Homo sapiens: one gene and its partners. The protein of the gene in region 2 interacts with the protein of the main gene of each other region in a pairwise test. Each region holds a gene or a part of one and is shown on either strand. Other genes may lie near its edges.

Evidence for each region.
Region 1: the proteins of PPP1CB (region 2) and PPP1R7 interact in binary tests that used the Homo sapiens proteins (3 or more experiments, as listed by UniProt).
Region 3: the proteins of PPP1CB (region 2) and CSRNP2 interact in binary tests that used the Homo sapiens proteins (3 or more experiments, as listed by UniProt).

The regions. Positions count from the first base shown.
Region 1 is NC_000002.12:241,163,845-241,167,496, reverse strand, and holds part of PPP1R7 (protein phosphatase 1 regulatory subunit 7), read right to left. Parts: intron 1,161-3,652; coding exon 1,056-1,160; intron 453-1,055; coding exon of another isoform or gene 429-452; exon of another isoform or gene 323-428; intron 1-322. UniProt on the Homo sapiens protein: Regulatory subunit of protein phosphatase 1.
Region 2 is NC_000002.12:28,775,759-28,779,410, reverse strand, and holds part of PPP1CB (serine/threonine-protein phosphatase PP1-beta catalytic subunit), read right to left. Parts: intron 2,561-3,652; coding exon 2,429-2,560; intron 603-2,428; coding exon 372-602; intron 1-371. UniProt on the Homo sapiens protein: Protein phosphatase that associates with over 200 regulatory proteins to form highly specific holoenzymes which dephosphorylate hundreds of biological targets.
Region 3 is NC_000012.12:51,070,027-51,073,678, forward strand, and holds part of CSRNP2 (cysteine/serine-rich nuclear protein 2), read right to left. Parts: intron 1-3,652. UniProt on the Homo sapiens protein: Binds to the consensus sequence 5'-AGAGTG-3' and has transcriptional activator activity. May play a role in apoptosis.

The DNA of each region.
Region 1 (3,652 bases), about 210 Mb from region 2:
CCTGCCACACAGTCCTCAGCGCCATTCCACTGCAGGCACGTCTCGACTTACCACTCTAAACTACACAGGTGAACACTTGGTTTGCATGCTAGTTTTATAAACTTTTAATTTCAATGCAAAGTCAAAGGAAGGTGACCAAACTTTCCACAGGCAAATTTGAATTTTTCCAAAATTTTATGCAGGTGTTGGTGAAATTTACTGCTGCCAACTAGGCCCTGGGGTTGAGGCACAAAGGCCTTTAATGAGATTGAAACACTATGTTTATAGACCAATCTGGTTGTATTTGCTGGCAATTTAACAAAACAGAAAAAAACAAGTAAAATTGAATGAGAAAAAGTCTTTTATTTGTCTTGAACACCGCACTGGGGCAGAGCAGGGTGAGCTGGAGGCAGCTGAGGAGGGTGGGGGCTCTGTGAGCACACTTCCCCTCAGTACGTGAGGCTGTCCTGCACCTGAGTGAGAAGGGCCGGGGAGGGAGGGAGGAGCATGAACAGGTGAGGACAGGTGTGGAAAGCAGGCAGGGAGGAATGGGGGAGGAGGAAGCTGCTCATACTGTAAGAAGAGGAAGGGGCTGGGACTGAGAGCTGGTCCTGTGCTCTCTGTGGGCTGGGAAGTAGGGGCTGAGGCCAGTGGACCCATGGACAGGTCAGTGGCCTAAAGGGATGCCAGTCACCCTCATACAGGGCCCTTTACGAGCAGGTTGGGTTTGTTTTTTTCAAATCTTGCAAAATGCCTGCAGTGCACAGTGGGTGTGCAATGGATGCTGCCCCATTGAGGAAGCCTAGGGAAGCCTGTGCTGAAATCCCACATAAAGCGTCAGCCCTTCAAGGCACACTCAGGGCAGAGGGCCAACAGGCACACACAGCTCCTGCACTTTTCAGTATGAGGAAAGGGTCCCTTAGTTTTTAGGATGGGAAGGTCTTTCTGATAAACCTCCAGAGGCAGGGCATCTTCCTGACACCGGCCCGAGAGGCCAGTGTGTGCTGGCTGGCCAGGTGCCTGCCCGCCTGGTGCCCACCGCCCACACAGCCCCAGACAGACAGTGGGTGTCTTACATTGTTCTCCAGGCCCTCGATGACCTCGATGCCATTGTGGCTAAGGTACAGCTCCCGCAGGTTCACCAGGTTCTGCAGACCCTCGATCTTGGTCAGCCGGTTGCTCTGCAAGAGGGAGAGCACACAGCTGTCAGAACAGTACAGAAGGTATGAAATGAAACGGTTTTTAGGAAACGAGGTTTTGTGTTATCTTGAAGAATTCTAAGAACAGAGAATTTCACTTAAAACATGCTAGAATGGGGCCGGGCGCGGTGGCTCATGCCTGTAATCCCAGCACTTTGGGAGGCCGAGTGGGGCAGATCACGAGGTCAGGAGATCGAGACCATCCTGGCTAACGTGGTGAAACTCCATCTCTACTAAAAATACAAAAAATTAGCCAGGTGTGATGATGGGCGCCTGTAGTCCCAGCTACTCGGGAGGCTGAGGCAGGAGAACGGCGTGAACCCGGGAGGCGGAGATTGCAGTGAGCCAAGATCATGCCACTGCACTCCAGCCTGGGCAACAGAGCGAGACTCCATCTCAAAAAAAAATATATATATATAAAGGGCTGGGCACGGTGGCTCACGCCTGTAATCCCAGCACTTTGGGAGGCCGAGGCGAGAGGATCATGAGGTTATGAGATCGAGACCATCCTGGCTAACACGGTGAAACCCCGTCTCTACGAAAAAAATACAAAAAAAATTAGCCGGGCGTGGTGGCGGGTGCCTGTAGTCCCAGCTACTTGGGAGGCTGAGGCAGGAGAATGGCGTAAACCTGGGAGGTGGAGCTTGCAGTGAGCCGAGATTGCACCATTGCACTCCAGCCTGGGTGACAGAGCGAGACTCCGTCTCAAAACGAACAAACAAACAAACAAAAAACATGCTAGAATGGGACTCATGTAGAGAGAAAAAGAGGATCAAAATTTTGAGCCTGCTGTACTGAGCTAAAATTCATGCATGGGAATTACATGTTTTTTATATAAAGAATTCATTGTTAGGCCAGGTGCAGTGGCTCTCACCTATAATCCCAGCACTTTGGGAGGCCAAGGCAGGAGGATCACCTGAGGTCAGGAGTTTGAGACCAGCCTGGCCAACATGGTGAAACCTGTCTCCACTAAAAATACAAAAAATTAGCCGGGCGTGGTGGTGCACACCTGTAATCTCAGCTCCTTGGGAGACTGAGGCAGGAGAATCGCTTGAACCCAGAAGCTGAGGTTGCAGTGAGCCGAGATTGCACCCCTGTGCTCCAGCCTGGGCAATAAGAGCGAAATTCCATCTCAAAAAAAAACCAAAAAAAAGAACTCATTGTTAAAAGATACATTTGGTGAAGGTTTACCTGATTTAATAATTTTAAAGTGTAAAAATTACTGAATATTTTAAAGTAAATTAATTATAATTTCTTTCTTTCTTTTTTTTGAGATGGACTCTCGCTCTGTCACCCAGGCTGGAGTGCAGTGGCACAACCTTGGCTCACTGCAATGTCCTCCTCCTGGATTCAAGCATTTCTCCTGCCTCATCCTCTTGAGTAGCTGGGATTACAGGCGCCCGCCACCATGCCTGGCTAATTTTTGTATTTTCAGTAGAGATGAGATTTCACCATGTTGGCCAGGCTGGTCTCAAACTCCTGACCTCAAATGAACCGCCTGCCTTGGCCTCCCAAAGGGCTGGGATTACAGGCGTGAGCCACCACGCCTGGCCTAAGAGCTTTTTTTTATATTTTTAATTTTTTTAGAGATGGGCTCTCACTATGTTGCCCAGGCTGGTCTTGAACTCCTGGGCTCAAGCGATCTGACCGCCTAGATCTCCCGAAGTGCTGAGGTTACAGGCATGAGCCACTGTACCAGGCCAAGAACTTTCTTAAAGAAGCCTGACAAACTTCTGCTTCACCAAGGGTTAAGAGCGGTTTCCACATGCCCCTCAGTATCAGTCGAAGGGATCAGGGATCAACTAACCATACCGGGCCTCGTCCCCAGAGCACTCTGTTCCATCTCGCTTCAAGGGTCCAATTCTGCTAATTTGCTTCCAACACAAAAGGTAAACAGGAGCCTAGGCACACCCAAGTGCTTACCAACTCCCAAATGCAGAAGTCTAACAGGGTTGATATTCTCTGTGCAATGGAAGGAATTGCTTTTACCATTGAGCCAAACACTTTAGAATTTAGAATAAGCTCCACCTTCTGAAGAAGTCCCCTTTGGCTAAAAACCATCTATGACTGCTACTGGGGCAGAAGGGGGAGGTGGGTGGGTGGAAAAAGCCAAAAACATGGCACTTAAGAAAGAAATTTTTTGGGAGGCCAAGGCAGGAGGTTTGCTTGAGTCCAGGAGTTCAAGACCACCCTGGGCAACATAGGGAAACCCCTTCTCTACATAAAATACAAAAATTAGCCAGGCATGGTGCTGTGTACCTGCAGTCCCAGCTACTTGGGAGGCTGAGGAGGGAAGATTGCTTGAGCCTAGGAGTGTGAGGCTATAGTGAGCTATGAATGCACTTGTCACTGCACTCCTGCCTGGATGACAGAGTGAGACCTTGTCTCTTAAAAAAAAAAGAAAGGCCACGAGTGGTGACTCATGCTTGTAAACCCAGCATTTTGGGTGGCCAAGGCAGGAAGATCACTTGAGG
Region 2 (3,652 bases):
TTGTGACACAGGACTAATAAAAGCTGTCATACCACAAGAATGCCGAGAGTTAAAACCTTAATGGACACTAGAAAACCAAGGGCCACTGCCTACAGTGACTTCTGTTTCACCTGGATAGTTTACTAGATAAACTAATTTTAAAAGAGCCTCTTCAGCCAAGTAAGCTGCAGTCAATCTGAAATATGACCAAGGAGATCTCAAGGAACCAATTTAATTAGTAACATGTTTCCCAGTTTCAGGTTCCTCTTCCTGGCCTATGCCTGACAGATCTTATTTTGAAAAAACTCTGAATCAAAGCAACTCTTCTGAACCAGAAAATTATTAGGCAATGTTTCCATGAATTACTTTTCTAAGTCTTTATTTTCACTTACATTCATCATAGAATCCATAAATGCGATTGATGCTAGCACACTCATGGTTTCCTCTTAAGAGAAAGAAGTTCTCTGGATATTTGATTTTATAAGCCAATAGCAAACAAATGGTTTCCAAAGACTGCTTTCCTCTGTCCACATAATCTCCTAAGAAAAGATAGTTGGCTTCTGGTGGGAAACCTCCATATTCAAATAATCTCAGTAAATCTGTATATTGTCCATGAATATCTCCTAAAAAGAGAAAGAGTCAGTTTTAGAAAAATTGGTTACTGTTATAAGCAGCTTCTATGAAATGATTCCCAATGTTCACATCCTGTGTAATCCTCCCCTACCCTTGAGTATGGGCTATATTTGGTGACTTACTTCTAATAAGCGAAAGTGAGATGGGCTGTCACTTCCAAGATTAAGTTACAAAAGACTGTGACTTTCATCTTGCTTGCACTCTCTCACCTTCTTCCATGCTCGCTGATGAAACCAGCTGTCTAATGAAGCATCCCACGTAGCAAAGAACTGAGGGAGGCCTCTGACCAACAGCTCATTTGGAACTGAGGCTCTTAGTCCATCAGTCTATAAGGAACTGAATCCTTTCACAGTTCAACCTTCAGATGACTGCAGCCCGAGATCACGCCTTAATTGGAGCCTTGTGAGAGACCCAGAGCCAGAGGACCCACTAAGCTGTTCCTGAATTCCTGACCCACAGAAATTGTGAGATGGTAAATTAATGTTGCTGTAAGCCACAAAGTTTTGGAATGATTTATTATACAACAATAGGTAACTAAAACAATTTTATTATCTGGTAGTTTAACTTACGTCACTTTTTAACACCAAATATGGAGACAAATAGTAAACCTTTAGAAATATGTAGTACAAATAACTTCCATTACCTTCAAGTTATTTCTATATTACATTTTAAAGAACACCTTCAAAGAATACTTTAATTCTAATAATTTTAAGATCACCTCTAAGTAACTACATTTGCTTAAGTTTATACAGGGGATTGATTAGTTCCCCCAAATTCTGAACTACTACCTCTTACTTGAAGGTGTGATATTCTAAGTTAACTGATCCATTCAACAAACATTTATTGGCCAGCTGCGGTGGCTCATGCCTATAATCCCAGCATTTTGGGAGGCCAAGACAGGTGGATCACCTGAGGTCAGGAATTCAGAACCAGCCTGGCCAACATGGAGAAACCCTGTCTCTACTAAAAATACAAAAAGTCAGCTAGACGTGGTGGCTCACACCTGTAATCCCAGCTACTCAGGAGTCTGAGGCAGGAGAACCACTTGAGCCCGGGAGGTGGAGGTTGCAGTGAGCCAAGATTGTGCCATTGTACTCCAGCCTGGGCAACAAGAGTGAAACTCTGTCTCAAAGAAAAACCAACCAAACAAACAAAAAACAAACATTTACTTAGCGAGTATCTCTTATTTGCTGGGCACTGTACAAAGGACTGTAAAAAAGTCACTGTAAAACTTAAAAGAATACAAGGTATAAAGTAGTATAATCTTCAAAACAAATTTAAATAACATCAAAGTTAGAAGACCACAGATATCGCCATATTGACCCTCTAAATTATACACCTATTTTTTTCTAACCAGTGTACTATGATGCCCTTTTCGTGACATCCTTGACAACACTAAACATCAATCTTTGGTATTTTTTTATAATCTGACTAGAGTTGGAGACTTGCTTTAAATTGCACATCACTGATTACTAAAAAAAGAAGCTGACGTCCTTATGTTTACTGGCCATTTGAATTTCTTCTAAGACCTTCCTCTTCCTATGTTATTTTTATACTGTATCGCCTTTCTCTTATTTATAAGAACTCTTTATATATTATAAATAGAACTCCTTTTATCTGTTGATATATAGCAAGTATTTTCATCTTGTCTGTAACTTGTCATTTTTATAAGTTTCAATTTTTATACACTTTTATTTAGTAAAGCCTACTGATCTGTTTTATACAAAAATTTCAAAAAATGTTTTCTCTAGATCTTAAACATGGGAGGAAAAACATGATTCAAAAGAGTTGTTTCCAACTTTACCCATTTACATACCACAAATTTTCAGCGGTGCTTCCAATTCCAAAAGAATAGGCTGGCTGAGAAAGATCTCCCGAGACTTGATACATAAGCCTCGAACTTCTGCTTCAGTCATCTGCACAATCTTTCCTGGACGACATCCTCGTACTGACAAACGATAAATAAAACAGTCAGTTTTCTAAAATTTACTCATAATAATCTTTCAAAAAGAGTCATGCCCATACTTTAAAAATCAGAAAAGTCACACAGGCAGCAAATTACCCTATTTGGTCCCATGGTTTAAAATAATGTTATTCTATGATCTCTGACTTCTATTTTCATTGTTACTGGTTCCTGATGATGCTCCTCAAGTCTGCTGTTGATGAAATGCAGTCCTGTTTTTTGCTGTCCTGTGACCAACCTGGGGCCTAGTAGCCAAAGAGACTTAAAAGATTTCAGGGCCGGGCACGGTGGCTCATGCCTGTAATCCCAGCACCTTGGGAGGTTGAGGTGGGTGGATCACCTGAGGTCGGGAGTTCAAAACCAGCTTGATCAACATGGAGAAACCCCATCTCTCCAAAAATACAAAATTAGCCAGGTGTGGTGGCGCATGCCTGTAATCCCAGCTAATTGGGAGGCTGAGTTAGGAGAATCGCTTGAACCCGGGGGCAGAGGTTGCAGTGAGCTGAGATCGCCCCATTGCACTCCAGCCTGGGCAACAAGAGCGAGACTCCGTCTCAAATAAAAAAAAAACAAACAAACAGAAAAAAAACAACAACAAAAAAAACACACACAAAAAAACATTTCAGAGCCCGCACCCTTTAAGGTCTGGCCTGCTTATCTCGCATCTAGTAGGATGTCAAAACAGCCTCATTAAGAACAATGTGCTATGAAGAAAGGGAGATTAAATAGTAATTGTCAGTAGGTGATTTAGCTTCACACACTTTCTTGGAATGTTACCAGCAGTCCCCAAAATTTTAGCAACTCCTATCTCTACTTTCTGATCAAAAGAAATACAAAAAAGATATCAGCTATGTATTAAAAATTAACTTATCGTTACATTCCCAATAGATCATTATATTAAAACCTCTAAAGGCTATTTAGATGGAGTGAGGCATCTTTGCATTACTGAGCCATAAGATAATATGGTTTCCAGTAACTTGTGGGATGAAGGGGAACAGAATGTTGCATGGAGAGACAGAAGAGTTCCTTATTTGCCCCACTGAACTCAACTTGTAATCATTTCCTCTCATCACCATC
Region 3 (3,652 bases), on a different chromosome or scaffold from region 2:
GCCAAGAAAGGGAGTCTTGGTGGAAGGACAGATTGAAGACAAGCCGTGGCTGAAAGAGTTCTGAAAACTCACTAGAGAACTCAAGAAAATGAGGCCTCATAATCCCTGGGGCTCTGGAAGCTGCTAGCAGGATGAAAGCCACGTGACTGGAGCCTTTGGTTGATTTCATCAGACAACCAGAGTAGAGCTGCTAAAGGAACAACTCCTGGGAGAGATGTGATGCAATGGGCTTGGGTAATCAGCTACACACCTGGTTTTCTTGTTTGTGGGGGAGGTGGTAGAGAAATGAAGAGAAGTAAAGTGGGGCTTCTGGAGGTTTCCTAGTCAGTGATTTCGGTACTAGGCAGGCCAACTACAAAGGGCCTTTCTGTTTATCTCAGGATTGCTCCTGTCTACATCTCCAGGGTTGACCTCCCCCTAAGCATACCCCCTCCTGCTGTCCTCTCATAGGCAAGGGATTAGAGATGTAACACGAGGACACTCATATAGATGTGAGAATTTAAATATCGAGATAGAAGTGGCATTTCAAATCAGTGAGAAAAGAGTCTTCTAGTTATTAAATCGTATTGGAACAAGTGGATATTTTCTGGGGGAAAAAAGATTCCCAATGTATACTATTCATGATAATGAGTTCCATATGGATAACAGGCCAAAATACAAAAAATGAAATAAAAATATTAGAAAAATTATAGTTAACTAAAGTTGCGGAACACCAAGCAGCTGCTGGAACAACCCCAAAGGAAGACAAACATTAGATGGTACATGAGAGATGCAGAATGTACATTTTTTGAAACCAACTGCCTCCCTTATAGAGAGCTAAAAAACAGGCCTGGTGCAGTGGCGCATGACTGTTATCCCAGCACCTCTGAGAGACTAAGGTGGAAGAATCGCTTAAGACCAGGAGTTCGAGACCAGCTTGGGCAACAGAACAAGACCCCATCTCTACAAAAACTGGCCGGACATGGTGGCTCACTCCTGTAATCCCAGCACTTTGGGAGGCCGAGGCGGGTGGATCACTTGAGGCCAGGACTTCGAGACTAGCCTGGCCAACGTGGCAAAACTTCGTCTCTACTAAAAATAAAAAAATTAGCCCAGCATGGTGGTACATGCCTATAATCTCAGTTGAGGGAGGCTGAGGCACAAGAATCGCTTGAACCTGGGAGGCGGAGGTTGCAGTTAACCGAGATTGCGCCACTGCACTCCAGCCTGGGCAACGGAGTGAGACCCTGCATCAAAAAAAAAAAAAAAAACCTACAAAAATTAACCAAGCATGGTGGTGGGTGCAGCTGCAGTCCCAGCTATTTGGGAGGCTAAGGCAGGAGGATCGCTTGAGGATTGCCTCTGTGCTCCAGCCTGGATGACAGAGTGAGACCCTGTTTCAAGAGAAAAAAAAAATCTAAGCAAAGAATAAACTAGGTAAGGTAAAGCAAGGGATTCCTCTTGACATATAAAGATAAGCCTGGTGCAGTGGCCCACACCTGTAGTCCCAACTACTTGGGAGGCTGAGGTGGGAGGATCACTTGAGCCCAGGAGTTTGAGACTAGCCTGGGCAACAAAATGAGACCCCATCTTTAAAAAAACAAAGTGCTGTATTAGATGTCATCACTGCTGGTGCTCACTAAACATCCTGCTAACAAGTAGAGCTCCTGTATCTGTCTTGGGTTTGCCTGGCTTCGTCCCTAGAATTCCTGTAAGTGGAGAACACAGAACAGGATGGTATACTGTTTTGACAGATCATTCCTCTGCCAGATTTAGGAGAGTGGAGTTTTCTTCTAGGGAAAGGAAGGAATGCCTTCACTGCAATTGATGAGAACAGTGTTTATTTGCCCAGCTGTTGCTACGGCAGCTGGAAGGTGACAGGGTCAGTGATGGAATTCCTCAGACAGAGGAAAGGGAAGCCTGAATGTCATTCTAGAGTGAGAAAAACAGGTGTAGGGCTTTAGGAATAGTCTGAGGGAAGTAGACATACAGCTCTCAGAGAAAGAAAGGAATGAGATGCTCTGGTTAGCCTACATCCTCTGCCACCAGTCTCCAACTCCACCACATTCTAACGTGTCTCTCTCATGACTCTGGAAATAATGGAGCTACCTGTTTTAATATGGGTCAGCATGCTTTGGGCTTCAAAGAAACCTGGCCAGGCTTAAACTGGTGTTCTTCAAATTTGGAATCAGGATCTCTGGGAGAAATTTTTGAGAGGTAGTAGCAACTATGGCTGTGGGAATACCAAACAGTACTAAGATGAAAAATGGGTGGCCAAGTGCGGTGGCTCACGCCTATAATCCCAGCACTTTGTGAGGCTGAGGTGGGCAGATCACGAGGTCAGGAGACCGAACCCATCCTGGCTAACATGGTGAAACCCCGTCTCTATTAAAAATACAAAAAAAAAAATAGCCGGGTGTGGTGTTGGGCACCTGTAGTCCCAGCTATTCAGGAGGCTGAGGCAGGAGAATGGTGTGAACCCGGGAGGTGGAGCTTGCAGTGAGCCGAGATCGCACCACTGCACTCCAGCCTGGGCAACAGAGCTAGGCTCCGTCTCAAAAAAAAAAAAAAAAAAAAAAAAAAAAAAGAGTGGCTATGAAGAGCCATGTAAGGTGGGTCTTTTCCCAGCCTCTCTCTCTCGAAGAAGAGGTGGTGCTGTATCAGGTGGCAGGCACAGTATTATACAAATCTAAATAACTATTTGATAATGCTGTTTGTATCTACAAGATTATCACGTAAGGGTGATGGGGATTATAGAAACAGCAGGATCCTTTCAGAGACTGTGAAATATCCAAAACCTGTTCTGTGCATCCGGCCAAGGGACAATTATTTGACCAGAAATTGAAAATTGTGCTTCCTTGAGTTCCAGGGTGACAGACCTGAACGCCTTCACGTATTCATATTTTAAACTTAAAAATAAATTGGGGGCGGGGGTGTTGGGCATGGTGGCTCATGCCTGTAATCCCAGCACTTTGGGAGGTCAAGAGGGAAGGACCACTTGAGCCCAGGAATTGAGACCAACCTGGGCAACGTTGCAAGATCCCACTACTATTAAAAAAAATACTAGCCAGGCATGGTGGCATGAGCCTGTGGTTCCCAGATACTTGGGAGGCTGAGATTGGCAGATGGCTTGAGGCCAGGAGTTCAAGGCTGCAATGAGCTGTGATTGAGCCACTGCACTCCAGCCTGGGTGACAGAGAGAGACCCTGTCTCAAAAGAAAACATACATACATACATACATACATACATAAAATTGAGGGAGGCAGTGGGGGTTTGGGAGGGGGAAATTCTAGGGAAGCCATTTTGCTATATCTGGTAGACTCCCCTGCCAGATGCAAAGACGGGAGTCTTGGACTGAGATTTGATTTCAAATCTGAGATTTTTCATTAGAAAGAGTTGAAATCTCTATACCCCAAGGACAACAGTCAAATAAAAAAAAAAATCAGCTGGGTGCAGTGGCTCACACCTGTAGTCTCAGCACTTTGGGAGGCCGAGGCAGGTAGATCACTTGAGACCAGGAGTTCGAGACCAGCCTGGGCAACATGGCAAAACCCTGTCTCTACTAAAAATACAAAAACAAGACGGATGCACACCTGTAATCCCAACTACTCGGGAGGCTGAGGCACAAGAAATCGCTTGAACCTGGGGAGGCCGAGGTTGCAGTGAGCTAATA